Linked DNA regions of Homo sapiens. The protein of the gene in region 5 purifies or fractionates together with the protein of the main gene of each other region. This does not show direct contact. Each region holds a gene or a part of one and is shown on either strand. Other genes may lie near its edges. The genes, in order: MEX3D, FAM83D, MIGA1, CUEDC1, ZAR1L, GLCCI1 and SECISBP2L.

Evidence for each region.
Region 1: the proteins of ZAR1L (region 5) and MEX3D purify together in Homo sapiens (co-immunoprecipitation; one large-scale study listed by IntAct). This does not show direct contact.
Region 2: the proteins of ZAR1L (region 5) and FAM83D purify together in Homo sapiens (co-immunoprecipitation; 2 studies listed by BioGRID and IntAct, with this or other methods). This does not show direct contact.
Region 3: the proteins of ZAR1L (region 5) and MIGA1 purify together in Homo sapiens (affinity purification with mass spectrometry; one large-scale study listed by BioGRID and IntAct). This does not show direct contact.
Region 4: the proteins of ZAR1L (region 5) and CUEDC1 purify together in Homo sapiens (co-immunoprecipitation; one large-scale study listed by IntAct). This does not show direct contact.
Region 6: the proteins of ZAR1L (region 5) and GLCCI1 purify together in Homo sapiens (affinity purification with mass spectrometry; one large-scale study listed by BioGRID and IntAct). This does not show direct contact.
Region 7: the proteins of ZAR1L (region 5) and SECISBP2L purify together in Homo sapiens (co-immunoprecipitation; 2 studies listed by BioGRID and IntAct, with this or other methods). This does not show direct contact.

The regions. Positions count from the first base shown.
Region 1 is NC_000019.10:1,561,646-1,565,842, forward strand, and holds part of MEX3D (RNA-binding protein MEX3D), read right to left. Parts: intron 1-4,197.
Region 2 is NC_000020.11:38,939,396-38,943,592, reverse strand, and holds part of FAM83D (protein FAM83D), read right to left. Parts: intron 1,635-4,197; coding exon 1,467-1,634; intron 1-1,466.
Region 3 is NC_000001.11:77,862,813-77,867,009, reverse strand, and holds part of MIGA1 (mitoguardin 1), read right to left. Parts: intron 3,117-4,197; coding exon 2,982-3,116; intron 673-2,981; coding exon 619-672; intron 1-618. UniProt on the Homo sapiens protein: Regulator of mitochondrial fusion: acts by forming homo- and heterodimers at the mitochondrial outer membrane and facilitating the formation of PLD6/MitoPLD dimers. May act by regulating phospholipid metabolism via PLD6/MitoPLD.
Region 4 is NC_000017.11:57,864,903-57,869,099, forward strand, and holds part of CUEDC1 (CUE domain-containing protein 1), read right to left. Parts: intron 3,342-4,197; coding exon 3,248-3,341; intron 2,791-3,247; exon of another isoform or gene 2,721-2,790; intron 2,514-2,720; coding exon 2,455-2,513; exon of another isoform or gene 2,436-2,454; intron 1,643-2,435; coding exon 1,575-1,642; 3' UTR 1,572-1,574; intron 1-1,571.
Region 5 is NC_000013.11:32,311,867-32,316,517, forward strand, and holds the start of ZAR1L (protein ZAR1-like), read right to left. Parts: upstream 3,498-4,651; 5' UTR 3,449-3,497; intron 3,280-3,448; exon of another isoform or gene 3,211-3,279; intron 2,685-3,210; 5' UTR 2,464-2,684; intron 228-2,463; 5' UTR 60-227; coding exon 1-59. Other genes in the region: BRCA2 (breast cancer type 2 susceptibility protein), read left to right, coding at 4,595-4,651. UniProt on the Homo sapiens protein: mRNA-binding protein required for maternal mRNA storage, translation and degradation during oocyte maturation.
Region 6 is NC_000007.14:8,086,168-8,089,757, forward strand, and holds the end of GLCCI1 (glucocorticoid-induced transcript 1 protein), read left to right. Parts: intron 1-25; coding exon 26-371; 3' UTR 372-2,913; downstream 2,914-3,590.
Region 7 is NC_000015.10:48,991,293-48,995,143, forward strand, and holds part of SECISBP2L (selenocysteine insertion sequence-binding protein 2-like), read right to left. Parts: intron 1,635-3,851; coding exon 952-1,634; 3' UTR 1-951. UniProt on the Homo sapiens protein: Binds SECIS (Sec insertion sequence) elements present on selenocysteine (Sec) protein mRNAs, but does not promote Sec incorporation into selenoproteins in vitro.

The DNA.
Region 1 (4,197 bases), on a different chromosome or scaffold from region 5:
GGGCAACATAGCAAGATCCTGTCTCTATAAAGGGTGTCACCTGTCGCCCAGGCTGGAGTGCAGTCACAGCTCACTGCAGCCTTGACCTCCTGGGCTCAAGCCATCCTCTCACCTCAGCCTCCCGAGTAGCTGGGACTACAGTTATGCACCACCACCCCCGGCTAATTGTTTAAAGCTTTTCTGCAGAGACAGGGTCTTATTATGTTGCCCAGGCTGGTCTGGAACTCTTGGGCTCAGGTGATCCTCCCATCTCAGCCTCCCAAAGTGCTAGGATTACAGGTGTGAGCCACCATATCCGGCCTCTACAAAAAATTTTTAAAAATTAGCCAGGTGTGGCCGGGCACGGTGGCTCACACCTGTAATCCCAGCACTTTGGGAGGCCAAAATGGGTGGATCACGAGGTCAGGAGATCAAGACCATCCTAGCTAACACGGTGAAACCCCGTCTCTACTAAAAATACAAAAAATTAGCCGGGTGTGGTGGTGGGCGCCTGTAGTCCCAGCTACTTGGGAGGCTGAGGCAGAAGAATGGCGTGAACCTGGGAGATGGAGGTTGCAGTGAGCTGAGATCGCGCCACTGCACTCTAGCCTGGGCGACAGAGTGAGACTCCGTCTCAAAAAAAAAAAAAAATTAGCCAGGTGTGGACCGGGCACAGTGGATCACGAGGTCAGGAGTTCGAGACCAGACTGACCAACATGGTGAAACCCCATCTCCACTAAAAATACAAAAATTAGCCGGGCGTGGTGGCGGGCGCCTGTAATCCCAGTTACTCGGGAGGCTGAGGCAGGAGAATCGCTTGAACCCGGGAGGCAGAGCTTGCAGTGAGCCGAGATTGCACCACTGCACTCCAGCCTGGGCGACAGAGTGAGACTCCGCCTCAAAAGAAAAGAAAAGAAAAGAAAATTAGCTGGGTGTGTTGGTGCGCACCTGTGGTCCCAGCTACTTGGGAGGCAGAGGTGGGAGGATCGTCTGAGCCCAGGAGGTTGAGGCTGCAGTGAGCTACAATCACACCACTGCACTCAGGACAGAGCAACAGAACCAGACCCTGTCTCAAAAACAACAAAACAAAACAACAACAACAAGAAACCGCTAGGCGTGGTGACTCACACCTGTAATCCCAGCACTTTGGGAGGTGGAGGCAGGCGGATGACCTGAGGTCAGGAGTTCGAGACCGGCCTGGCCAACATGGCGAAACCCCGTCTCTACTAAAAATACAAAAATGAGCCTGGCGTGGTGGTGGCAGATACCTGTAATCCCAGCTACTCGGGAGGCTGAGGTGAAAGAACTGCTTGAACCTGGGAGGTGGAGGCTGCAGTGAGCCGAGACTGAGCCACTGTACTCCAGCCTGGGCGACAAGAGCAAGACCCTGTCTCAAAATGAAAAGAAAAAAACCTCTCGGGGAATGAAGGGAACATGTACACTGTACTAACGCCAGAACTCTCAGTTGGGTCTGCAGTGTGGAGGTTTCCTAGCAGAGCCTTTCTTCCTAGGGCTCTGCAGTGTATGGACAGGAAAACCATGGCATGGTCCCCACCAACACCCCAGCACTGTCCCCAGCTGTCGGGAAAACCTGGGGCCTGCGGGGATGGGAGGAGAAGAGGAGCCTCTGGGGCTGCAGCCAGGAACAAGGGACAGGAGGGGAGACAGTGAGCCAGGGGTCGCCCCCAGCTGAGGGGAACAACCTAAAATCACTAGCCTTAGCCTGTGCCGACAGCAGAGAGAGCGAGCCCTGAGCAGCTTCCAGTCCAGGCCCTGCCTTCAACATCACTCACTCATTCATTCATTCATTAGCCACAGAACACCTTCTGTGTACAGGCCCTGGCAAGACACTGAAGACCCAACCATGACCAAGCACCTGCCCTGGTTCCTGTCCCTGGGAACATGCAGGGGGAGAGGCTGCCACGGAGCACAGATTCACCCAGGGTGCCTGGCAAGCGGGGTGAGAAAGGAGGGTACATGTTGGGGTCTCAGCAGGAGCAGGGCCGGAGGTCCCCTAGAGCACCTTTGCTGGCCGGCTGGAGGGAGACGCCTGTGCTTTTGGGTCTCCACTTTGCCTGTCTCCCAGACAGGGCTGCCTCCCCTCACCCCCAGCCCTCAAGCTTTGGAATCTGAAATTTTCTTTGCTGACCCACCAGAGAAACTGGGTTTGAATCCCAGCCCATGATTTTTGTTTTGTTTTGGAGACAGGGTCTTGCTTTGTTGCCTAGACTGGAGAGCGGTGACAAGATCATAGCTCACTGCAGCCTCGACCGCCCAGGCTCAAGTAATCCTCCTGCCTCAGCCTCCAGAGTAGCTGGGGCTGCAGGAGTGTGCCACCATGCCTAATTTTTGTATTTTTTTTTTTGTAGAGACAGGGTTTCGCCATGTTGGCCGGGCTGGTCTCGATTCCTAGGCTCGAGGGATCCTCCTGCCTCAGCCTCTCTGAGTGCTGCTATCCCCTCAGTTTTTACCTATTCTTTACCTCTTGCAGCCTCTGCCTCCCCATCTGTGACCTGGGAGCTGCAGGACCTTTCCTGGGGCACATTATGGGCCTCAGTGAGATGGGGCAGGTCAAGTCTGGCATAGGCTTAGCACACAGTAGACCCTCAATAAAGATCTAGCCAATGGCCAGGCGCAGTGGCTCACACCTGTAGTCCCAGCACTCTGGGAGGCTGAGGTGGGTGGATCACCTGAGGTCAGGAGTGTGAGACCAGCCTGGCCAACATGGCGAAACCCCGTCTCTACTGAAAATACAAAAACCAGCTGGGCATAGTGGCACGTGCCTGTAATCCCACATACTAGGGGGGCTGAGGCAGGAGGATCGCTTGAACCTGGGAGGTGGAGCTTGCAGTGAACCGGGATCGTGCCATTGCACTCCAGCCTGGGCAACAGAGCGAGACTCCATCCCAAAAAAAAAAAAAAAAAAAGATATAGCAAATGAATGAACTGGAGCCTCCAGCAGATGGGTGGGAACTCAGAGGGTTTGAATGACCACAGTCTGCCCAGAAAGCACTCGGACCCCCTCTAGGATCAAGAGAACTGAAGCTCAGAGAACAGCACGTAGCTACTGGGGAGAGGGCTGGTGCCAGGCCTGTGTGACTCTTGTCTAGGTGGGGAGGCCGGACAGGTGCACCCTTCCTGGCCTCCAGGGAAGGGGTAACCTTGGAGCTTGGGTTTGACAGAGAAGCATGAGAAGTTCAGAGAGCCCCAGGGTGGAGAGGAAGGTGAGTAAAGGGGCAGGGCCGGGGCACAAAGGACATTGAAAGGTATGCTTGAGAACGGGGTGGGTGGGAGAAGCTGGGAGCCACAGATGGTTCTACAGTGTGGAAGAAGTACAGACTACCGAAGCTGTGGAAGACGTAAGGACTACTGAAGCTGCCAACCTGTCCTGGCATCCACAGTTGCATCCCTGGCAACGCGCACTCCACTTATGGGGTGGCCACTGTGTGTGACCTGGAGCTGGGATTAAAACCAGCAACTTGGGTCCAGGCATAGTGGCTCACACCTGTAGGAACCCCAGCACTTTGGGTGGCTGAGGATCGCTTGAGGCCAGGAGTTCAAGACCAGCCTGAGCAACAGAGCAAGACCCTGTCTCTACAAGAAAAACTTTATAATAAAAACAAATAAATAAAACTGGCCGTGCGCAGTGGCTCACGCCTGTAATCTCAGCACTTTGGGAGGTGGAGGTGGGCGGATCACTTGAGGTCGGGAGTTCGAGACCAGCCTGGACAACATGGTGAAACCCCGTCTCTACTAAAAATACAAAAATCAGCTGAGCGTGGTGGCTCACACTTGTAATCCCAGCTACTCAGGAGGCTGAGGCAGGAGAACTGCTTGAAACCAGAAGGCGGAGTTTGCAGTGAGCCCAGATCACGTCACTGCACTCCAGCCTGGGCGACAGAGCGAAACTCCGTCTCATAAATAAATAAATAAAACCAGCATCTTGCCCCAGAATCCTCTACCCTAATGGAGGTGAGACGTCCGCACATCACAGAGAGGGGCCGTCATCTGCGCAGGGCCACGGCGGCCTGCAGGACAAGCAATCAGGGCCCACTCTACCCCCGACCCCCACTGTACCCCAGGGCCTGCCTTGCTGACGGCCACCAGCAAGAGCCCAGTAAGTGGGTGCAGAACGCACAGGCCAGAGGTGGGGGCTGAGCCTGGTGCCCACAGACTCCATTTCCCATGGACCTGCCCCTAGAGAATTCCCACCCTGAG
Region 2 (4,197 bases), on a different chromosome or scaffold from region 5:
CTTAGGTCATTTTCAGAATCAGAGAAATAGACATAAAATCTAATTTTACAATAATGAGAAATGAACAGCAGCAGCATGTAATAGTGATTACAGACACTGGGGTTGGAGGCAGACATACAAGGAGGCAGACCCTAGGCCCACTACTTTGAAGTGGTGGACACTTGGATTCTCTGTGTCACTATTTCCTGGTCTAAAACACAGGTGCCACTTACCTGATAGGGGCTGCTTTGAGGATTCAGTTACATAACATTTGTTAAAAGCACAGAGCAGGCTGGGCATGGGGCCTCATGCCTGTAATCCCAGCACTTTGGGAGGCCGAGGCAGGCAGATCATCTGAGGTAGGAGTTCAAGACCAGCCTGGACAACATGGCAAAACCCCATCTGTACTAAAAATACAAAAATTAGCCAGGTGTGGTGGTACGCACCTGTAATCCCAGCTAACTGGGAGGCTGAGGCAGGATAATCTCTTGAACCTGGGAGAGGGATGTTGCAGTGAGCCTAGATTGGGCCACTGTACTCCAGCCTGGGCAACAGAGTGAGACTCTATCTCAGGAAAAAAAAAAAAAAAGCATGGAGCAGTGCCAAAGACAGAGTGGGGGCTCAAAAAATACTGGTTGCTGTGATTAAAAGGGCAGCCTCCTGGAGCTACTGTCAAAAGCAGCAACTTCCAGGGTGGCCTTCAGGCCTTCAACAAGGGAGCTGGTCCAGGCTCTATTAAGAGGCAGGACAGTACAGGGGAGAGGCCAAGGTCTTGAATCCTAACATTTCTTTTAAAGAGCTTAACTGAGATCTAATTCACAGATCATACAATTAACACAAATTCTGTAGTTTTTAGTATATCCACAGATATATGCAACCATCATCACCGTTAGTCAATTTTAGGACATTCTCATCAGTTTAAAAAGAAAGTGCTAAAATAAAGTACCCTTTAGCAATAATCCCGTCCTTCCCCCAACTCCCCAGCCCTAGGCAACCACTAATCAATGTCTCTATAGATTTCCCTATTCTGACTTAATGGAATCATATCATATGTGGTCTTTTGTGACCGGTTTCCTTCACTTAGCACGTTTGCAGGTTCATCCATGCTGTAGCATGTATCAGCACTTCATTCCTTTTTATAGGTGAATAGTATGCTATTGTATGAATAGACAACATATCATTTATCCACTTATCAGTTGATTGGCATTGGATTGTTTCCACTCTTTGGCTTTATGAATAATGCTTCTATAAAACTCACACATAAATTTTTGTGGGGGCCCATATTTTCATTTCTCTTGGGTAGACACCTAGGAGAATTGCCAGGTCACAGGTACTGTTTGTTTTCTGTAAGACCAGGCAAATGACTTTGCTCACAGCCTCAGTCCCTTCCTTGTAAACAGGGATACCGCCACCAGCCAGCTTGTAGATAATGGATGCTTGGTCATATTTGTTGACTATGGTGAAACTGGATATAGTGTACCACAAACCTTTTCCTGTTCAGGATGAACTTTCAGATCCATGCACATATCCAGAAATTGAGAGAGGAGAGCCTGGTCCAGAAGGATATACACAGCAACTCCCTGTTTCCTGCATATTTCTTGCAGGTCTCTGAAGATGTCGATGTCTGTGAACACGTCCATGACCACTGCAATCACCTACAGGTGAAACAGGGAAGAGCACATGATAAGCTTATAGGACACCACCTTACAGCACGCTCTCTGGACTCTGGACTCCACTCAGAACTGGGAAATGATCCCTATCCAACAGTTATCCTTCCCTCCCCCTTCTGCAGTGTTGGTGCCCCCCTCACCATGGACTCTTTTGCATCTCCAAAGACACTTGGGCCCCGTGTCCTAGAAATCTTGACTTGGCCTAGCTAACACTCCCAACTCCATGCTGGGAGGTTTCTCAAAAATACAGATCAATCCACTGCCTTGCTCTCTTATGAACCTGCTCCATTCACCTTCTATTCCTCCACTAAACTCCTGTCTTACAGGCTTATTCAGATCAGCAAGCTGTCTGGTTCTGTGGGTAACACACTGTCATCTTTGGCTTGTTGCTTTCCCCACCAGGCTTCAGTTTGCTGTCCGTTAAACAAGTAAATAAAACCTCAGATTCTCTCTGAGGGCCCTTCTGGAGGGTAGCATTCTCGAAATCTATTTTTTAAATTATTGTCTGGTTTTGAATCATAATCTCTGACTTTTTTAAGGCCTGTCCCATTCACCACCAACTCATGACTCGAAAGCAATCGAAGCAGGCCCATGGATTCTCCCTTCTTCTGCCTCCCTAACACTGCATACCATATTTGTTAACATTCTGTTCTTTCTACCAGCCAGGCCTGATCAGCTGTCTGTTGGGCAGGTTCTAACCAAATGACTTCCACTGCACTGGCCTCTCCTCAGTAAAAGGTTCTCTCTGCAGTTCTTTGGTATCCGTCCATAGTGCAAGCCCACAGCAAAGAACAGGGAAATATTTCCTAAGGATTCTGCCCTTAAGCTCAGAACAGGCCTTTCTTCTCCCCAACAACATGGCTCCATTCATGCCTCCCAAGTGATTTTCCACACCTAGCATCAGACTACAATTAAGAGCTACCTTTTAGCCATGCATTCCTGGGCAAATTACAGCTGTTTCAAATGTCTGTTTCCTTAGCTGCAAAATAGGGTTGTATCGAGAACTAAATGACTATGTTACATAAAGTGCAAGGTACAAAGGATCCCTTAGTATCTGCTCGTTTATTCACTTTACCAGTCCAGAGCTGGAGCCGTCCAGACAGTTCAACACAGGGAGACACCGCCTAGCTTTCCTCGCTCTTTTAAAGACAGGCTGCTCCTGCCACAATGCCTCTAATCACACCTTTTGCAGGCTTAAAACCAAGGTCCTCAGCAAACTCCTGGCAGGGCAGTGGGGGTGTCCAAACCTCCAGGCTTAGAAACAGGTCCTGACAAACTGAGTCAGAAGTTGGGGGTGTTAACTAAGGAAGCCGAGGCTTGGGGGCTCTTCTGTAGTCTGGAGATATAAGGGTTTCTCCTTCCTCCCCATTTCCACAGTAAAAGCCTGTCTCTCAGAATCACATTAACTCTTTTTCTGAAAGTTAGGATTATTCATTTATGGGTTTCACTCCTTCTCCTGCAGCAAAGGCTCTTGAATGGGATTGAGTCATTTCTGTGGTCCCAGAGGACTTAGGACAGTATATGACAGTCATGACTCCTTAAGGATTTGGGGGATTAAAGAAGGAATGAAGAGGCAAAAAGGCAATTTGGCTGTCTTTCTCCAACACTCCAGGGCCTGGTCTACTAGGATGTGAGACCCTGAAACACCAGTTCCTGGGAAGTCATTGCTGTGAGGGGGTTGAGAAGACCAGTTACTCTCCTGCTGCCTTTCCCACCCCACCCCTTTTAATGATGGTCTAAGCTGTGGGCTATTCTTGGTAAAGGGCATGGCTGAAACCCACTGAACACAGTGATTTAAAAAATGAGAAGCGTTCTTTCTGAATTTGTGGCATCCTCTGAAGTTTACATCCTCCACTGGCTTTACACATCCTATTTTGACAGTTCTATTCATCCCACTCATTCGGGTCATACAACAGGAATTAAAGGCAAAAGTTCTGGGCATAGAACCCAGCTCTACCACCTACCAGCTGTGTGACCCTGGGCAAGTGGCTTAATCTCTCTGAGCCTCAGTTTCCTCCTCAGGAAGACAAAATTAATAGCATCTGGGTCAAAGGGCTGCTGTGAGGATTAAGTGAAACAAAGCATGGAAAGGGCTTAGCACAGGGAGGGCAAGGCAGGAAACAGGTGCTATTATGCAGCCAGCACCTCCTCAGAGCACGCTGTGGGCTGCACACTGCACTAGGCAGAAAGATGGCTATGAGGAATTTGACATAGACCCAACTTACCTCAAGGAGAGGACACAGGATGCAGAGAGGCAAAATGATATATACAGCCTAAGCAATTAAACTAAGGGGGCCGGGCATGATGGCTCATGCCTGTAATCCCAGTGCTTTGGGAGGCCGAGGTGGGTGGATTACCTGAGGTCAGGAGTTTGAGAGCAGCCCGGCCAACACGGTAAAACCCCATCTCTACTAAAAATACAAAAAATTAGATGAACATGGTGGCATGCACCTGTCATCCCAGCTACTAGGAAGGCTGAGGTACAAGAATCACTTGACCCTGGGAGGTGAAGGTTGCAGTGAACCGAGATCGCACCACTGCACTCCAG
Region 3 (4,197 bases), on a different chromosome or scaffold from region 5:
CACTATATTAAAGAACTGTAAAAAAATACTGGCCAGGTGCAGTGGCTTACACCTGTAATCCCAGCACTTTGGGAGGCCAAGGCGGGCGGATAACCTGAGGTCAGGAGTTTGAGACCAGCCTGGCCAACATGGTGAAACCCCATCTCTACTAAAAATAAAAAAATTAGCCGGGTGTGGTGGCACCTACGGTCCCAGCTACTTGGGAAGCTGAGGCAGAAGAATCGCTTGAACCCGGGAAGCAAAGATTGCAGTGAGCCAGGATCGCGCCACCACACTCCAGCCTGGACAACAGAGACAGACTGTCTCAAAAAAAAAAAAAAAAAATTAATATCATTAAGAGAAAAAACAAAAACCTAAAACTTATCAGAGCTGTTTCCAACTCGAAACCCCTCTCCCAGTTAGCTGAAATACCATGCATGCCTCAATACTAAGGATGAGAAAGAAGGCCTTCAAAAAAGAAGCCAACCCACTACCAGTAAGTCACTCATCTAGCCTGAGGGACAGTCCCTCCTACCCCTCCTACAGCTGCCAATTCCCACCGGAGAAGTGACTCAGAAGCTGCTTTGACAGAATCCTTAAATGATTTAACAAAGGAATTCAGGACATAACGAATTTTACCTTCATCTGTTGTCTTTTCTGTTTCAGCACCGACCAACAACTTGAAGCCACAGCCTAAATACATGCAGAGAAAAGAAAGATTTATATATAGCTATATAAACATTTCCATTTTTATTAGAAATTCAAAGTTTATGGGTCTAAAACGTTCAATACATTCATTACTAATAAGAACTAGTCGGCCGGGCACAGTGGCTCACATCTGTAATCCCAGCACTTTGGGAAGCCGAGGCGGGTGGATCATGAGGTCAAGAGATGGAGACCATCCTGGCCAAGACGGTGAAACCCCATCTCTACTAAAAATGCAAAACAAAATTAGCTGGGCATGGTGGCGCATGCCTGTAGACCCAGATACTCGGGAGGCTGAGGCAGGAGAATTGCTTGAACCCGGGAGGCGGAGGTTATAGTAAACAGAGATCGCGCCACTGCACTCCAGCCTAGCGACAGAGCAAGACTTTGTCTCAAAACAAACAAACAAACAAAAAACAAAACTAGTCAGGGTCCTCACATTGTTTGAAAATATTAATGAAAAGGTATTTCATTTTTATAAATTTTTAAATCATGAGCAAAGTTGTATGTTGCAAGGGCAAAAAAAAAAAAGTAAAATAATATTTAAAAAATTAAACACAAAGCCACTAAAGGAAAAAGACTGCACTCTGGAACAAAGGAGATTCAATTTTCAGAGTTTTAAAGTTCTGTTCCTTAAGGGAAAAAAGTGAAAATATGTGTATATAGAATTCACATACACAAATAAATATTCTATGTGTAATAATAAAGTAATTTTTCTTCTTCTTTTTTTTTGAGACAGGGTTTCACTCCCATTGCCTAGGCTGAAGTGCAAAGGAGTGATCTCGGTTCACTGCAACCTCCGCCTCCAAGGCTCAAGTGAACCTCCCACCTCAGCCTCCTGAGTAACTGAAACCACAGGCACACACCACTGCACCTGGCAAATTTTTGTATTTTTTTTATAGAGACGAGGTGTCACTATGTTGCCCAGGCTGGTCTCAAACTCCTGAGCTCAAGTAATCGGCCTGCTTCGGCCTTCCAAAGTGCTGGGATTACAGGCATGAGTCACTGTACCTGGCCTAAAGTAATTTTTTTTCAAGAATAGTACTATTGGAATATTTGTGAATAGAGCTAACAGTTTGATCCAAATAAAGAACTAGGAAATACAACCATGACAGGACAAAAGCACCCAGTGGATCCTGAAGAAATCTGACCCTTGGAGGTGATTCCAGGAAGGAAAAAAAAAAAAAAGAAAGAAAAATCTGACCCCACTCTGGCATGACCCAGCTTTGATCAAGGTCACTTTACCAAATCAGTTACAGAAATGGAGAACATGTACCTTTTATTATTAAAACATACTTAATTGAGGCAAAATGAATTTATTTAAAATGCTTTTAAGTTTAATATCAGTAAGTTCCAAAATAATTGTGAAATTGCCAACTGGAACATTTTTTTAAAGGTATCCAAACTGCATCATAAAATATATCCACCCTACTTTGCTTCCAGGTGCACACTTAAAGCCCAACAAAAACCAATGTCAAACAGGTTTGAGAACAGAAAAGAACAGAAGCTGAAAAGAGAATTTCATCTGAAGATGTTATGCCGTATATGCCTGAGCTGAATATCAAAGGATGAGCTCAGTTTCCATACATTATTTCACAGACAGATGTATATGTAAATCTTAACAATCTACCCAGTTTTGACATTTTTTTGAGATAGAGTTGCACTCTTGTTGTCCAGGCTGGAGTGCAGCGGCACGATCTCGGCTTACTGCAACCTCTGCCTCCTGGGTTCAAGCGATTATTACACCTCAGCCTCCCGAGTAGCTGGGATTACAGGTGCCCACCACCATACCCAGCTAATTTTTGTATTTTTAAAAGAGACAGCCTTTCACCATGTTGGCCAGGCTGGTCTCGAACTCCTGACCTCAAATGATCCACTTGCCTCAGCCTCCCAAAGTGCTGAGATTACAGGTGTGAGCAACCGCGCCTGGCCAACCACTTTTTTGTTTGTTTGTTTGTTTATGAGACGGAGTTTTGCTTTTGTTGCCCAGGCTGGAATGCAATGGCTCAATCTCAGCTCACTGCACCTCCCAGGTTCAAGCAATTCTCCTGCCTCAGCCTCCCGAGTAGCTGGGATTACAGGTGCCCGCTACCATGCCCAGCTAATTTTTTTTTTTTTTGTATTTTTAGTAGAGATGGGGTTTCACCATGTTGGCCAGGCTGGTCTCAAACTCCTGACCTCAGGTGATCCGCCTGCCTTGGCCTCCCAAAGTGCTGGGATTACAGGCGTGAGCTACTGCGCCCAGCCTCACTTTTTAATCAAACTTAAAAGGCTGAGAAAGGTTAACCACCACTTACTGTTTCTTTGAAGGATGAGTTTAGCCATCGATTATTTACTACATTCTGTATGGATGTGGGTGGGTTTTCCAAATCTTCAAAGGAGTCCATTAATATAAAATCCAGAACAACATCATAAAAATTTAGATTTTTCACCTGCATTAAATTATGAGTTGAAACAGAAATTATTATTACATAGAGCTGAAATAAAATCTGAGCCAGGGCTTTATGGTTTTATAACAGCAGGGGTTTTTTTTAATCAGCTTATTCAAAAATAAAAAATAAAAGGAGAGATAAATATGAAAGCTCGCCACTAGAAATTACGAATTCACATTATCGCTGCTCCTTCCTAGATCTCAAGTGAAAATAATCTCTCCTCCTCTCTATTCTAGGAGTCCTTTGTTCACGCTTCTATTATAACATCCAGGATGCTCATTCTGCCTTGTTATTTAGTTACTGGTATATGTGCCTGTCTTCCCCACCAGATCATGAACATCTTGCTCTTTCATTCATTCATACATACACACTCTACATACTACATGCTGTACCAAGTGCTCAAACTTCTAGAGTAAGCAAATTAGACGCCTAGAGTATAGTGGGGAAAACAGCAACAAAATAATCCTGCAAATATCCAATTATGAACTGTGTGAAGCACAATAAAGGAAAAAGTATAGTGTGCTGTATCATTTTGGCAGAAATGTGGAGAATGAAACAGGGGAAAGAATGAATGCAGGGAGGAAAGGAGTGAGCAGGGAATCGGGAAATATAAAGACTACTGATGTAGCCCAGAGAAAAGACAACAGGCACTTAGGCCAAGAGGGGTGACAGAAAGAGAGAAAAGTCGAAGAAACTGAAAGATATTTAGGAGTTAAAACTGACAAAATTAGAGATGAATATGATAAAATGGGTGAGCATCAGGGAGAGGTGAAGGATGAGTCTCAGGTTGCTGGCCTGCAGAAGTAAATGGATACTGATTTCATTTCCTGAATAAGGGAACACTAGAAAAGGAAAAATTAAGTCTTCATGTATTTGTTGTATCCACTGTTTTCTCTGCCTAGAAGGCCTTTCAGCTGCTTGTAAACTCACTCTTTTTTTTTTTTTTTGCTTCTGAGACAGAGTCTTGCTCTGTCACCCAGGCTGGAGTGCACTGGCACGATCTCGGCTTACTGCAGCCTCCACCTCCTGGGTTCAAGTGATTCTCTTGCCTCACCCTCCTGAGTAGCTGGGATTACAGGCA
Region 4 (4,197 bases), on a different chromosome or scaffold from region 5:
ACAAATTAGCCAGGCAAGATAGTGGGTGCCTATAATCCCAGCTACTCGGGAGGCTGAGGCAGGAGAATCGCTTGAACCTGAGAGGTGAAGGTTGCAATGAGCCAAGATTGTGCCACTGCACTCCAGCCTGGGCAACAGAGCGAGACTCTGTCTCAAAATGAATGAATGAATGAATGAATGAATGAATGATGAGCAAGTTTCTGATGTAGGGGTGGTTTGGACAGGACCCGTTCTCCCTGGGGACCAGTAGGAAGGAGAAGGGCGTGGAGATAGTAGCAGCGTGGGGTGACAGTGGAGGCGATTCCCCGGCAGGCTCTATCTGGGCATTCCAGGACAGTGGGAAGTGGGCCGCGGCTTTGTGTTTGAGGAAAGCCTGAGGGGAATAGAAGGGGCTGCAGTGCCTGGTGGGAGATGTGGTAGGGAGTCAGGTGGAGTGGGTGTGGGGGCCAGCTGCCCAGGCAGAGAGGAGAGGGCACTTGTATTTACTTGTTCCCGGTTTCCCTCCATTGTGACTATCCTGAGGCAAGTGAGTATTTCTCCATCGTCTGACACAGGGCCATACCTGCCACACCATCAACTCAAGAAAGCCTTGTAGATGCTGCCCACTGGGACCAAACAAGTGGCTGGGGAAGGCCGGGCAGCTTCCCCTCTCCCATGGTAAACGGGGGCTGGAAAAGGGACAGCTGTCTTGGCCAACTCCTGGAGGAGGCCTTGGTATTTTCTTTTTCTCCCCAAGAGGGTGCACAGGAAGCGAGGAGGAGAAATGGCTTGGAGCCCTGGGGCTTCAGCCAGAAACCGCTGCCTCAGGAGGGTTTCCTCATCCTGGTGTGGCAGATCCCAGCCCACCCAACCCAAGCAGGGGGCTGGAGAGAGTTGTGTGTGTGCACAGCCGGGTTGAGACCACCTCAGTTTTTCTTTTTCTTTTTTTTTTTTTTTTGAGATGAAGTTTCACTCTTGTCGCCCAGGCTGGTGTGCAATGGCGCGATCTCAGCTCACTGCCACCTCCGCCTCCCAGATTCAAGTGATTCTCCTGCCTCAGCCTCCCAAGTAGCTGGGATTACAGGCGCTTGCCACCACGCCAGGCTAATTTTTGTATTTTTAGCAGAGACAGGGTTTCACCATGTTGGCCAGGCTGGTCTCGAACTCCTGACCTCAGCTGATCCACCCACCTTGGCCTCCCAAAGTGCTGGGATTACAGGCATGGGACACCGTGCCCAGCCAGTTTTTCTTAAATCATCCTCTCAGTGTGCTACGTGTGTCCTGGACTGTCTTCTCAACTGGACTGTAAACTCTTCAAGGTCAAAGCTGATTTTGTTTTCCTGTTCTCAGCATCTGTCATAGGCAGGTGTGCTCATCTTTTGTCAAATGAATAAATAACCAAAAAAGACATGCAATGAACTAGTTCCCACGCCCGTGTCCCTGCCGCAACTATGAGGGAAGACACGTGGGGCCTGTGCTACCCAGTTGCCTGAGCCCAGCGCCTCTGGACACCTGGGAGGACATGTGGGGTGCATAGTGTGGGGGGCCCTGGCCTTGGGCAGTCCCTGGGTTGCTATGGCTCCAGGCCTTACCTCTTACTGTCCTTCTCGCAGGCCTTCCTCCACCTTGGGTGCCTCCTGACGCCTGCCCCGGAAGTCTTCATCTGAAAAGGAGAGGGAAGCTGCCTCATCCTCTACCCTGCAGGGCCTCGCTCAGGCACGGCCCCTAGACTGGGCAAGAGAGCTGACCCGACTCTCTCTGCCCCCTTCATTTGGGACCCATGCAGATCCCCCCAGGTAGACGATGCATGGGTCCAGGGAGAGAGGCAGCAGGACACTCAGGTGCTGGCCAGGGTCCACCACTGAGCTCTGAGACCTTGGACAAGTTCTCCCCTCGTCTTTGGGCCTCAAATTTCCTCATCTATAAAATGGGATGGAAAAGCTGGACTATCTAGATGACCTCTGAGGCCCTTCCAGTCCTTGTTTCTGGATGCCTCCTGACCCTCGAATGTGGCATGAGGATCAGGGTTCAGCTGCGGGCCCAGGAGGGTCTGAGGCAGAGTCTTCTGGCCCACGTGGCCTTTGGAAGGGACTGGGTGAAAGTTGAGAAGCCTCTGGGCCCACAGACTGAAGCTGCCCAGTGCTTGGTTCTCAGGCCGAGGGTCCCCCATGGGGGCAGGCCTGTCTGCCACCTCACACCCAAAAGAATATTCCCCAGAAACAGTACCTGGCACTTCATGCTACAGGTACACATCTAGGTGGAAGTAGGGCTAGGGCCCCTTTTCAGGGGTTGCAGAAAGGGGGAAGCAATGTCGACCAAGTCAGGGGGATCCATATCTTTGGGTCACCTGCCCACCAACCCTCAGTGTGTTCCTCCAGGGGACAGGGCGGGTGCTCCCATGAAACACCCAGGAACTCCGCTGGGAGATCACCGATCATAGAGAAGTTGGAGCTTACGACTCCCCTCCAGCCTCACCACACGCGTGGCCCTCCACATCATCCAGGAGGTTGGCTGTTGACGCGGCAGCCCCCAGCCTGCCAGGCCATTCAGGAAAACCGTCCCAGGGATGAGGGGACACTGCCCTAGTCCTCCCAGTCCCACTGACTCTCTGCCCCACCCCTCAAAGCTCTGGAGGTACCTGACACACCCACCTGACCCCCCACACCCTTAGTACTGTCCCCCAGGCTCATTTTCCTGAGGTCAGTGGTATGGCCAGGCCCTGACACTCTCGCCCAGCTTACATCTCTGGGGATGGAGAAACAGCTTCCTCCCTGTTTCCCTCTGGCTGCTGAGCCTCTGCTATCCTAGGCCCTGTTTGAGAAGCATGAATAGGAGTTCTGATAAAAAGGTGGAAAGCCGTATTTCTACTCGAGGAAGGGAGGGCCAACATGCTTGGAGTGAGGAGGACTCGTGCACCAGTTCAACTAGAGAAATGAAGGGAAGGTTTGATATTGATGGAAGAACCACTTTTTCTCCCAAGAAGTACATAACCTCAGACCAAAAAAAAAGTTAATAGGACAACTTCTGGGCCTACAGAAGGGAGACAGGAGCTGCTGCCCTGCTCCCTAGGCCTGGTCCCTGGTTGGCAACGAGAGACGGGCAGTGGACTGGTGGCCAAGCTCATGGAGGAGAGGGGAGGAGGAAGGGAAGGCCACAGAGCCGGGTTCCACTCCCAGGGGAGGGCACAGCTGCAGGGAGTCCAACAGGGGTCTTGCTCCATGGCCCTTGGCTTCCACCACCCCCACCAGTGCCAGGCTGGAAAGGATACGACTGATGCTTCAACAAGTGTTTCCTCTTTGACTTCCTCATTTTGGTCTTCTCTGAGAAGGCTCGGGCAAGTTCAAACAGTTTCCTCCGGGTGGCTGGGGGCAGAGAGACCTGTGAGTCATTCTCTCAGCAGCCAGCACACCAGATGGCCTCCTCCCAGGTGTGGGAAAGGCCAGGGGAGGACCAAGGCCCCCCGGAGAGGGAGCAGGGGGCAGGCAAGGGTGGGAGCTGAGGAGGGAGAGATGACAGGAATCGCAGACCCCTGAGGACGCCACCCCAGGAGCAAGAGGCTACATCCTGGGTCAGCCTGCAGGGGCAGCACAGGACACCCTGAGCCAGGCCCAGGGACCGCAGGCGGCTCAAGATCCAAGTATTCCCTCCCCAGCTGCAACACACTGCAACGCATCTTGGCTCGCTTTCCCGCCGCCACCGCCTTCCCGCCCCTCCCCTAGCCACCTCCAAAGTTGGTTCTGGGATTTCCATGACTAATCCGAGATTTTCCTTGAAATGGAGCCTGAAAGGATCGCAGCCTCATTCACACATGGCTGTGGGTCTGTGTGGCGGGGAGGTGAGGGGGAGGGAAGGGGGCATTCAAGGCTGGTAGGACTTTGTGGAAAGAGGTCCCCCACCCCCACAGAGGCTTAGCAAGGGCCTCTCTGTGCAGTCAGCTCCGGCCAAGCCTCCTCGAGCCACAGAGAACGTGAACATGAGGATTGCGGTGAGGGCATGTGTGGCACGTTATTTTTCTGCAGACATCTGGCTCAAGAGGATTTAAAACTTAATTTGTATCTAGACTCAGCTGTAGAGGGAAGTGAGGCAGGAAGGCTGAGGGAGCCAGCCTGCGATGAAAATGTCACTGGTTCACCAAGAGTCAGCTGCATTACATGTGCTGAGGGGCTCCCTCACTCCTGGGAGGCCACAGGGCCTGTCTCAGAAAAGCTGGGGAGGGAA
Region 5 (4,651 bases):
GGCACTGTGCTCCCATAACCCTGGTACAAGCCATAGGGAACACGGACAAAGCGCTCCATCCGCTCTCAGGTGCTCAGGCGCAGTCTAATATCCTAGCCAGTTTGTTTGGGTCCTTATTTTGCCTTCCTCCTTCATCCGCCCCTTCTTTCTCTTCATCAGGTTGGTTCAGATTCATTCCTGGCTTCTCCATTTATTTCAGATTCTAATGGGAGCTGCTGCTTATTACCCTGATTGAGGGAGAGAAGCTCTATCTACAGATGTCTAATTGCCACCTGATTCCTACCTAATTGCTTTTCCCTACCTCTTCACTGTTCGGGAATCTTTTTTTCAAAGCTGTTTTTCATTTCCAGCTTATTCACACATATGCTTTAATTAGTGATTAATTCATATATTCCTGTAGTGACCATTCTAAAGATCCTTTGTAAGGTAATGTGGTAATGTTAGATAATGTTTTAAGGTACAGCCATTATGGACAACAGTATGAAGGTTCCTTAAAAAAGTTAATAGAAGTACCAGATAATCCAGTAATCCCACCACTGCGTATTTACCCAAAGGAAATGAAATCAATATCCTGAAGAGATACCTTCACTTCCTTGTTCGTTGTAGCATTATGCACAATAGCCAAGTTATGGAAACAATCTAAGTGTCTGTTAACAGAAAAATGGATAGAGAAATTGTGGCATGTATTTATACAATGGAATATTATTCAGCCTTAAAACAGGAGATCCTGGCCAGGCGCGGTGGCTCACACCTGTAATCCCAGCAGTTTGGGAGGCCGAGGCAGGCAGATGACCTAAGGTCAGGAGTTCGAGACCAACCTGGCCAACATGATGAAACCCTGCCTCTAATAAAAATACAAAAATCAGCCGGGTATGGTGGCACGCTCCTGTAATCCCAGCTACTCGGGAGGCTGAGGCTGGAGAATCACCTGAACCCGGGAGGCAAAGGTTGCAGTGAGCTGAGATCACACTACTGCACTCCAGTCTGGGCAACAGAGAGAGAAAGACTCCGTCTCAAACAAACAAACAAACAAAAAACAGGAGATCCTGCCATTTGCAACAACATGGGTGAAACTGGGGAACATTATGCTAAGTGAAATAAGCCAGATAGAAAAATACTGCATAAACTCACTGATATGTGGAATCTGAAAAAGTCAAATACATAGAAGCAGAAAGTAGAATGGTGGTTACCAGGGACAGGAAGTTGGGGGGAATGGAGAGAGACTGGTCAGAGCCTAAAATGTTACAGTTAGGTAGAATGAATGAGTCTAGAGATCTAATTTACAGCATAACGACTACAGTTAACAATACTGTATTTTATACTGAAAAGTTTCAAAGAGAAATTTCAGGTGCTCTCACCGCACACAAAAGAAAGGTAATTATGTGAACAGATGGATATGTTAATTGCTTGACTATAGTAATCATCTCACTGTGTACATATACATGTTGTGCACATTAAATATATACAACTTTTAGGAAATAATGGTTTTTTGGGTTTTTGTTTGTTTGCTTGTTTGAAATGGAGTTTCCTTGCTCTGTCTCCCAGGCAGGAGTGCAGTGGCATGATTTCGGCTCACTGCAACTTCCGCCTCTGGGGTTCAAGTGATTCTCCCACCTCAGCCTCCCAAGTAGCTGGGATTACAGGCACATGCCACCACACCCAGTTAATTTTTGTATTTTTAGTAGAGACAGGGTTTTGCCATGTTGGCCAGGCTGGTCTCGAACTCCTGACCTCAGGTGATCTGCCCACCTTGGCCTCCCAAAGTGCTGTGATTACAGGCGTGAGCCACCATGCCCAGCTGGAAATAATGTTTTTAAGAAAAATTAAAGCATATTGTAAATTGAATACAAATAGTAAATTGAGCAGCTGCACTAGAAGAGAATAGGTGAGAAAGTCTATTATGGTGGAGCTAATAAGTTGCAAGTCCCTGGTACAAAGAGAACAAGAAACATAAAGGTATGGGGGGCTGTATAAAATGACAGAAAATGTTATTTCTGAGACTTGTGTGACATGCCACGGGTTCTCATTAGTCCACTCCTAGTGAGACACCCCTCCCCCACAAAAAGGGGACAAAGCATATTGTTCTGATTTATAGGGTAAATAAATCACAGGTTAGTTAAGTGTATGAAGTCAAATGGACTAGAATTCAAACCTGGGCCTTACTACCAGGCACATTACTTAACTACTTGATTCAGTATCCTCATCTGACAATACTGACCAATTTACAGGATTACTGTAAGATTAAACATGGTATTGCTTGAAAACCCAAAGCAGAATGCCTAACTCATAAAATGTTTGGTAAGTGGCAGCTGTTATTAGTAAGGATCACAGACGTATTTCTTTGCGAATTAGACTTAGAGCAAAAGCTTTAGAATCTATCTGCATTAGTAAGGCCTCCTTCTACAACTAAGGATTACTGATTATCAAACTAAAATGGTCCCTAAGGAACCAAGCGGAGCCCACCCTTTTCCTAATCCAAGGTTGCTTCTGTTTACTGCTCAAGCACCTTCTGGAAGCAGCAAGGCCCCCATGGGAGCAACTCTCACTGAATCCATTTGAAGGTTTTGTAGGTCTTACAACAAACCCTATTCAGCCTTGTATTAGGCATGTTACAGAACCAACGAATTCGGAGATGAAGTCAGGTCTTCCAGTTCAGCCTGCGAGGAAGACAGGTGATCCGAATCCTAAGAATGCAAAAGATGGGCCGGGTGTGGTGGCTCATGCCTGTAATCCCAGCGCTTTGGGAGGCCGAGGCAGGCAGATCACCTGAGGTCGGGAGGTTGAGACCAGACTGACCAACAACGGAGAAACCCCGTCTCTACTTAAAAATGCAAAGTTAGCCGTGCGTGGTGGCCCATGCCTGTATTCCCAGCTACTCGGGAGGCTGAGGCAGGAGAACCACTTGATCCCTGGAGGCGGAAGTTGCGGTGAGCGGAGATTGCGCCATTGCACACCAGCCCGGGCCACAAGAGCGAAACTCCGTCTCAAAAAAAAAAGCAAAAGATACTACCAAGCCCTGCGGAGCAAGGTACCTCACACTTCATGAGCGAGTTAAGATGGGTTTCACAATTTTTCAAGCAAGGAAACGGGCTCGGAGGTCTTGAACACCTGCTACCCAATAGCAGAACAGCTACTGGAACTAAAATCCTCTGATTTCAAATAACAGCCCCGCCCACTACCACTAAGTGAAGTCATCCACAACCACACACCGACCACTCTAAGCTTTTGTAAGATCGGCTCGCTTTGGGGAACAGGTCTTGAGAGAACATCCCTTTTAAGGTCAGAACAAAGGTATTTCATAGGTCCCAGGTCGTGTCCCGAGGGCGCCCACCCAAACATGAGCTGGAGCAAAAAGAAAGGGATGGGGGACTTGGAGTAGGCATAGGGGCGGCCCCTCCAAGCAGGGTGGCCTGGGACTCTTAAGGGTCAGCGAGAAGAGAACACACACTCCAGCTCCCGCTTTATTCGGTCAGATACTGACGGTTGGGATGCCTGACAAGGAATTTCCTTTCGCCACACTGAGAAATACCCGCAGCGGCCCACCCAGGCCTGACTTCCGGGTGGTGCGTGTGCTGCGTGTCGCGTCACGGCGTCACGTGGCCAGCGCGGGCTTGTGGCGCGAGCTTCTGAAACTAGGCGGCAGAGGCGGAGCCGCTGTGGCACTGCTGCGCCTCTGCTGCGCCTCGGGTGTCTTTTGCGGCGGTGGGTCGCCGCCGGGAGAAGCGTGAGGGGACAGATTTGTGACCGGCGCGGTTTTTGTCAGCTTACTCCGGCCAAAAAAGAACTGCACCTCTGGAGCGGGTTAGTGGTGGTGGTAGTGGGTTGGGACGAGCGCGTCTTCCGCAGTCCCAGTCCAGCGTGGCGGGGGAGCGCCTCACGCCCCGGGTCGCTGCCGCGGCTTCTTGCCCTTTTGTCTCTGCCAACCCCCACCCATGCCTGAGAGAAAGGTCCTTGCCCGAAGGCAGATTTTCGCCAAGCAAATTCGAGCCCCGCCCCTTCCCTGGGTCTCCATTTCCCGCCTCCGGCCCGGCCTTTGGGCTCCGCCTTCAGCTCAAGACTTAACTTCCCTCCCAGCTGTCCCAGATGACGCCATCTGAAATTTCTTGGAAACACGATCACTTTAACGGAATATTGCTGTTTTGGGGAAGTGTTTTACAGCTGCTGGGCACGCTGTATTTGCCTTACTTAAGCCCCTGGTAATTGCTGTATTCCGAAGACATGCTGATGGGAATTACCAGGCGGCGTTGGTCTCTAACTGGAGCCCTCTGTCCCCACTAGCCACGCGTCACTGGTTAGCGTGATTGAAACTAAATCGTATGAAAATCCTCTTCTCTAGTCGCACTAGCCACGTTTCGAGTGCTTAATGTGGCTAGTGGCACCGGTTTGGACAGCACAGCTGTAAAATGTTCCCATCCTCACAGTAAGCTGTTACCGTTCCAGGAGATGGGACTGAATTAGAATTCAAACAAATTTTCCAGCGCTTCTGAGTTTTACCTCAGTCACATAATAAGGAATGCATCCCTGTGTAAGTGCATTTTGGTCTTCTGTTTTGCAGACTTATTTACCAAGCATTGGAGGAATATCGTAGGTAAAAATGCCTATTGGATCCAAAGAGAGGCCAACATTTTTTGAAATTTTTAAGACACGCTGC
Region 6 (3,590 bases), on a different chromosome or scaffold from region 5:
ATCTAATTTTGTTTTATGGTTTTAGGTCTCGTCAGCCTATCTCGGCCCCTCTCTTTTCATGTCCTGACAAAAACAAGGTTAATTTCATCCCAACCGGATCAGCTTTCTGTCCTGTAAAACTTCTAGGCCCCCTCTTACCTGCTTCTGACCTTATGCTCAAGAACTCCCCTAACTCTGGCCAGAGCTCAGCTTTGGCAACTCTGACCGTTGAGCAGCTCTCATCCCGGGTTTCCTTTACGTCTCTTTCTGATGACACCAGCACAGCGGGCTCCATGGAGGCCTCTGTCCAGCAGCCATCCCAGCAGCAGCAGCTCCTGCAGGAACTGCAGGGTGAGGACCACATCTCTGCTCAGAACTATGTGATCATCTAAAAAAGGGGGAGCTGGCCTCCACCCTATGTTCCATGGATTCGGAACAAGATTTCAGACATCTGCATGAGTGACAAACTTTCTGAACACCACCACCACCAATAATACTTATCAGCATCATAAAGTATCTCTTAAACACTGATCTTGGCAGGGACGGAACTCCTATTCAGCAGTTTTTGTGGAAAGCAGTAATGCTTGCAAAACGTGTGTGTCATTCAGCATTTTAAGTGGAGACTATGCATTTCATAGTATATTTGACAGATTAGTACTGTGTCCTGTGTTTTGTTCCAGATTCTTCAGTATAAATAAGCTCTATATCAAAAAGTTGCCTGTCTAAATAGAAAATGTCTTGCTGTGTTTTGTCCTATGGAAAATACTGTAATTCAGGATTATGTTTACAATTGATCCAGGTGTTTGTTTCTAACTTCTGTAATACATACAATGCAAAAAAAAAAAAAAAAAAATGGCCACAACAGTTGCACAGTGCCCACCCTATGGCCTAGCTTCAGGTACTTCAGTTGAAGTCTAAACTCAGGTAACTTGGAATGTATATCATATTGGGATATTAAATATTTCACAGCTAAAAAGCTAAAGAGGGAACATCACTCTTTTGCCTTTCCTTATTTTATGCATTTCCCTTTCCTCATTACATTCCACATTCTTAGAATAAGAAGTGCATTCAATCCTAGGAGAATGATAATCCTGGACATGGGTGAACATGAGGAGAACCAGCAAAATCTGTGGTGTTTGACATCACTTTGTCATGTGGTTACAAGTAAAACAACTGTTGCATTCACTGTTTCAACATGTGTACATGTGGCTTTTTTAAAAGTTCAGGTGTTGCTCAGTAAAGGACTGTGACAATGTTGCAAATAAAGTGTTCAGTACTGGACTGTACATAAACATTCCACATTGTGTGTGATGAAATTTAAAGACAAGAATGTCTAGAGTTAATTTCAAAATAAGTGAAGTGTTTGACGGAATGGTTGAGATTTTTTTGTTTATGTTAGCCATCAGGGTCATAACTGTTACCATTTTATCTAAAGACATATTTATATTTAGTTTCTCCCTTGGAAATTCTTTATTTTGCAGGTGAAAAAGTGACATACTTTTTGTTATTGTCTTCCTCAAGCAGTTTAGGTGCATGATCTTCATTTACATAGAATACTTGGGTCTCAGAATTGATGCAACATAAGCAGGTTTTTTTGGTGACTTACAAGAGCAATAGTTTGAAGCTATCTCATTTAAGCCTCTCATAATGCATAATCATGAGTAGTTTTGAAATTTGCAACCTGTGAGGTAGAGCATAAACTCAAGAAAATAGCCTTGAACTTGCAGACTTTTGACACAAGTTCTCCACAAAGTGTGAAGAGAGCCCCAGGCATTCCTGATTGGTCAATGGGAGAGCCTAACTTTCATTGTTTTCTTCAGTACAAAGAGTATCCAAAAGCTAAGTTTTTGTATTCCACTACTTTCAGTTCAATAAAACCTAGAGTTGTTTCATCTGCGCCTAAAGTGTATGGCACAATTTTCTTAAGAATTAGGGGAACCAGGTGCCTACAGTTAAAGGAACGTTTCAGTTCCTTTCATTCATTCCTGGGTTTTTCTTTTATTTTCTAAGAAGGTTGAAGAAGGATGAGTGATAGAGAAGAAAGCAACACCATTGATTTTTTTTTTTAAGAAATGATATATATATGTATATGTTTGTGTGTGTGTGTGTGTGTGTGTGTGTGTGTATTCTGTGCATTATTTTGTCATGATCTCAATTCTCTTCTTTCCACCAAAGTTTGTCGTAATATTTTCTCCTGAAGGTGCATTCTGGCTCCTTTAAATTAGTCAGTGTTATATTGTAGGAGACTGTCATGGAAAAAAGGACTCAGTTTACTTTCGTCATTTTCACAGGGGAACCTTTTAAAACAATCTTTTCAGCAGCAGATACCTTTAACCCTAATAATCTCAGGCCTTGATGAAAATACTATATTTTGTAGATTATGGTTAAAGGGGGAAAATTACTAGTTCCGTAAGATAAATATGAGCTCCATTTGACTTCTGATGTCTGGTTTAGCATTACATAATATGTTGATCTTACACTCTGCTTTTGTCCAAATAAAATGCAATAGTATCAATATCAATTTCAGAAAAATGGACTGAATATGCTTTTTTGGTGATGAAATCTCATGTACGATATTTATAGTGATGTGCTTTTATTTTCTCATGAGATACTAAATATTAATTGTGTTGTACATTTGTTCTTAGCATATATTAAAGTTTTGAACCAAATGTGTTAAAGCTTACGCTTTGCCATGTAAATTTCCCAGAAGTTGTTGAGCTCAAATGTATCCTACATCCAGCTGTAGAAATTTGTCAGAAATTGTTTAAATTTTGTATATAATTGTACTGTTTAATTCTAGCCATTGCGCTGAACAGTATTTGAGTTACCATATAATATGGCTTTACACAAGGAAATGTGTGGCTTTTGTTTTGTATTTTTTCAGTATAGAAGTTCCTGTGTCTTATTTAAATAAAGTTATTAGTAAAACTGAAATAGTTCACACATGTTTTTGGAAAGACTGGGGTTGTTGGCTCGTTACCCGACAGAGAGAAATTCAGCTCAGGTTAATGGTAGTTTTCTGTACTCATTGAGTTCCTGGCCTGCATGTCTGGAGGTGTGGGGTGTCTAACTGGATCAGATTTCTACAACCTGGCTTCCTCTTGGCATTTAACTTACACACTCTCCATCACAAGGTGAGAAGCTAGAGGTCTTAAGTTCCAAGTCTTGGTACTGTTCCCAGGTATGATCACATTAAATAGAGAAAACATTGTTCTCACATCACTTTATACCTCAGAATTTATAGAAATGAGTTTAAATTCAATGAAATCATTTCAGAGGAAGTTGCATATTTCTTGCAAGCAAAGCTGCAGCAATAAAATTTAATTTTTTACTTTTTTATTTGTTTAGATTCAGAATAAGGTGGAGAAAAGCTTTACAAAACAAAGGAGGGTTGACATCATGCCCAGTTATCCAGACATGGATATGGTCTGGTAGGCCATATGGTAGCGTGAAAGCAAGAACAAAACGCTCTGAGAAATAATTTATCAGCAGACTGTTGTTCACTTCCAAAGCGCATCTCAAAGGGATAAGATTTGATCTTTAAATTGAACTTAGAAGTGACCAGTAGCTGTGGTTTTGGCTGAGAAAAATAAAACGTAACTTTTTAAATG
Region 7 (3,851 bases), on a different chromosome or scaffold from region 5:
ACAGTTTTGCACTCAGGACAAGTTTGGATACTCAATCAAATCCATATCTCAAATCAAGAGTCCTGAACCAGAAGCATGCAAGAGAACACACCAGTATAAGACTCTGTTTCTGAAGAGTTTACATGTAAGTGCAGCAGTCATACAATCGGTTACAGTTATTCACCTGTCAACATGTGCCTAGCTTTTTGTAAATAAGTCTATGTACAAGAGCATTCCTGAGGTAAGTAAGAAGCAAATATGAGACAGAACCTGGAGGTCCTATCATGGGTGACTGTTCACTATTATAGACAGCATCTATCACTTTCCACAAATGAGGCTAGCTAGCTATAATCTAAGATGGTGGCTCCACTGCTAGCCGAAGTTTTGAAGGCTCTGTTTTAGCCCATCCCAACACTAATTAATTACAATAATCAGTGACTTCTGACTAAACATTTGTGGACCACATAAAAGTTGCATTGATTTTTTAACATACAACACTGGTGGACTTAGTTACCCTCAGCCTTTCATTTAATTTTCTGACTCCACCCCCAGTTCTTTTTTAAAGAAGCCCAAACAATTTTTTGGTCAAATTAGAGTAGAGGAGGTGGAGTCCTGAAGCAAACACTGATAACTGCTTCTATCCTTAGAACCTTGTTCTTTAACTTTCAAAATGTCTTTTAAGTAAGCATTTGAAATTTATTTTCTTTAAGATCTGGTCTTCTTTTTATCACTGTTTTTGATTACAAAATAAGCTGAAACAGATCTGAATTTTCCACACAGTTCTTAGAAAGACACTTAGATACTAATTAAAAGCTAAGCTACAGATCATAACAAGTAAAAGCTACAAAAATATTTGTTGGGAATTAAATACGTATATTAAATACTGGACAGTGCAAAATGTTGAGATGAAGCATAAAAGGTAATGGCTGCAACCCTTCCACAGCTGGAGATAGAGAGCCGACATTTCCTGAGTTACGTAGTTTGCGTTGTGTAATTAGAATCAGAGTGCTCTTTGTTGAGCGAGCTGCAGTTGCTGGACTTCTGCTGCCCAGGACTGGCCTGCTGGTCAGCAGTCCATGCCTCACTGTCCATCCCTGGCTCCAGCACCTCAGGCGCCTCTGCTTCCTCTTCTCCACTTTGCTCTACATTGTCTTCCTCAGAACCATTAAGGGTTTTTCCAAGCTGAAGGGTTTCCATAGTTCTCTGGGTCTCTGAGACCCAAGACTCAATTCTACTATTGAGCTGCACTTCTACAGATATGGGTTCATGAGTATAATCTTCCTCCTCCTCCTCATCTTCATCTTCTTCTTCTTCAAGCATGCCAGGTACAAGAGTGCTGGTGGTGCTGGTGATGGAGGAATTCAAAAGATCTCGGCAACTGCCATCCAAAGAGCCAGTCTCTGTACTCTGCTGTGAGGCCCATTCCAGGTCATCTGGCTTCACTTCCTCTTTATCACTTGCTGTGGATTTCCCAGCACTTGTAGCTGAGGTAGTACTGCCTGTAGCCACTAATGATGGCTGCTTACCAATTGGGGGTGTGTCAAATGGAAGTTTACTGGGTTTTTCAGAAGTGCTGTGCTTACAGGATACCTCTTTCTCATTTTCTGATGCTTCCAGTCCATCTGAAGTTTCCACCATGTTTCTCCAATTTGTTTCTACAAGTATCAAGCAGATTTTTTAAAAACCAGAACACTGTTTCAAAATCATGCAACTCTTTAAAAACCCCCAAAAAAGAAAGAACAACAAAATATATAAATTTGTTGGCTTAGAAACTGACTGGAAAAACTACAAATTTAGTTTATTTAGTACTAGTTTGAGACAGAGAGAGAGTGTGTGTGTGTGTGTGTGTGTGTGTGTGTGTGTGTGTGTGTTTCAGATGGGGTCTTGCTCTTTTAGGCTGGAATGCAGCAACATGATCTTGGCTCACTGCAGCCTTGACCTCCTGGGCTCAATCTATCCTCCTATCTTGGGCTCCCAAAATGCTGGGATTACAGGTGTGAGCCACTGTGCCCAACCTAATTTAAATGTTATAAAGGGAAAATAATTCCCAAAAATGTACATTCAAGATAAAGAAACAGGGAGGTAAAAATAAGTATATTAACGCTTCAGAATGCAAGAGATCTTATACCAATAGGAGCTCACTGGCATTCACAAATAAAATCCATATATTCATGAAAATCAATAAACTGCCTAACTTTTTGGTAGCCTAGAGGTGTAATGGGCTCAAGGACCCACAACCCAAGAGATAGAAGAGCCAAGATGTCCAGCAATAATAGTTCTGATTCATGTGTTTGTACCATGCTCACTCAGCAAGTTATTTAAATTATCTTTTGGCCTGTAATGGGACATGTGTTTCCAATTATAAGCAAAGAATCCATCCATGCATTTCTAACATCTGTGAAAGGTTGTTTTATAATATATATATATATATAGCTTGGCTTACAAAGTGATTTTGGAGGACAAAAAAAGTATTATATACTACAGTGATGACAAACTAAATTATTTCTCATGATAGGAAATCAGTTGAAGGCAAAAAAAGTACCAAGAATCAGTAAAGATCTCTCACCCCTGTATTTTTTCAAATTTTTTTAAAAAATAAAAATTCTATCATATTGACATTACAGCTACTATTTGCAGTTTATAGGTATAATATTCTTATCAAGTTGTAGCAAACCTATTCACATTAGTATGTTCAATATGGTCACCATCTATGGCCTATATATTGATATAGAACATGTTTTGGGCACTTCAAGTCAGGATACATTGTTTGGGAAAAAATTTCTTTCCTGAAGCTACTTTAGTGTAGAATGAGTCCTTTCCACTGTCATTTCTACCTTATGAAAAAAAAAAAATCACCTCCTCCTATATTCTCATTCTCAGCTAATGACATTATCATTTACACAATCTCAAAGCAGAAGACACCTTATAGTAACACTTGATCCTACTTTTCTCTCTTATTAGTATTATATCCCTTTAGTCCACTGAATTCATCACTATACCATGACACCTGTAGCTCAAAAACTACTAAATCTGTTTACTACTCCCTTAGCTCAGGCCTTCTTTTTCTTGCTGTTCATTTGTAACATCTTCGTAACCGGTTTTGTGAACTGATTATATCATTGTCTAACTGGCTTTTTATCACCCTAGGATAGAATCCAAAATCCCTGGCGTGGCACAGCAAAGCCCTTCATGATCTGGCCCTTATCTATCATTCTGGTCCTACTGCCTTCTGACCCTGCGCCATAGGCCACACACTCCATGCTCAGTGTCATCTAAATTCTCACTGTTCCCTAAAGTTGGAACATCAGCTGTACTCTTTCTGCAGATGTGTTTTCCTCCTTTCCCCTTCAGACTCCTATTCATCTTGATAACCACTCTTAAATGTTAGTTCCTTCATGAAGTTTTTCCTAACTCCTGACAGGCAATCGCTAACCTGAACTCCCACAGTACTTTTTACATATACAGTCAAAAGCCTTGTTTTGTGTTTGCTGTTTCACCTTCCTCATCCCTCCTCACTTCCACTCCAGCTCATCTCTGTGTCCCTATGACTGGTATATAGTAAGTGCTGGGGAAAAAAAAAAAAAAAAACAGTCTAGTAAGTGAAAATTTTCCCACATATATTTAATTATGAAAAAAAATTTTAAAGGCACAAAATGTTTAAAAATTTTAGATGCACATTAACATTTCAACAGTTTTTTTTTCTAAGGAGAAATCCAAGACCCCGAGATTAACTGATTACACCTAAAACCTTTAGGCAGAGTATAGAAAAACCAAGGCTTCAATCTTTGAACACTTTGAATCTGGTGCTTTCTGAAAACATCACCTCAATCTCTGAGACTTTCGTTTTATACTACTTGTGTTTATATGTGCCC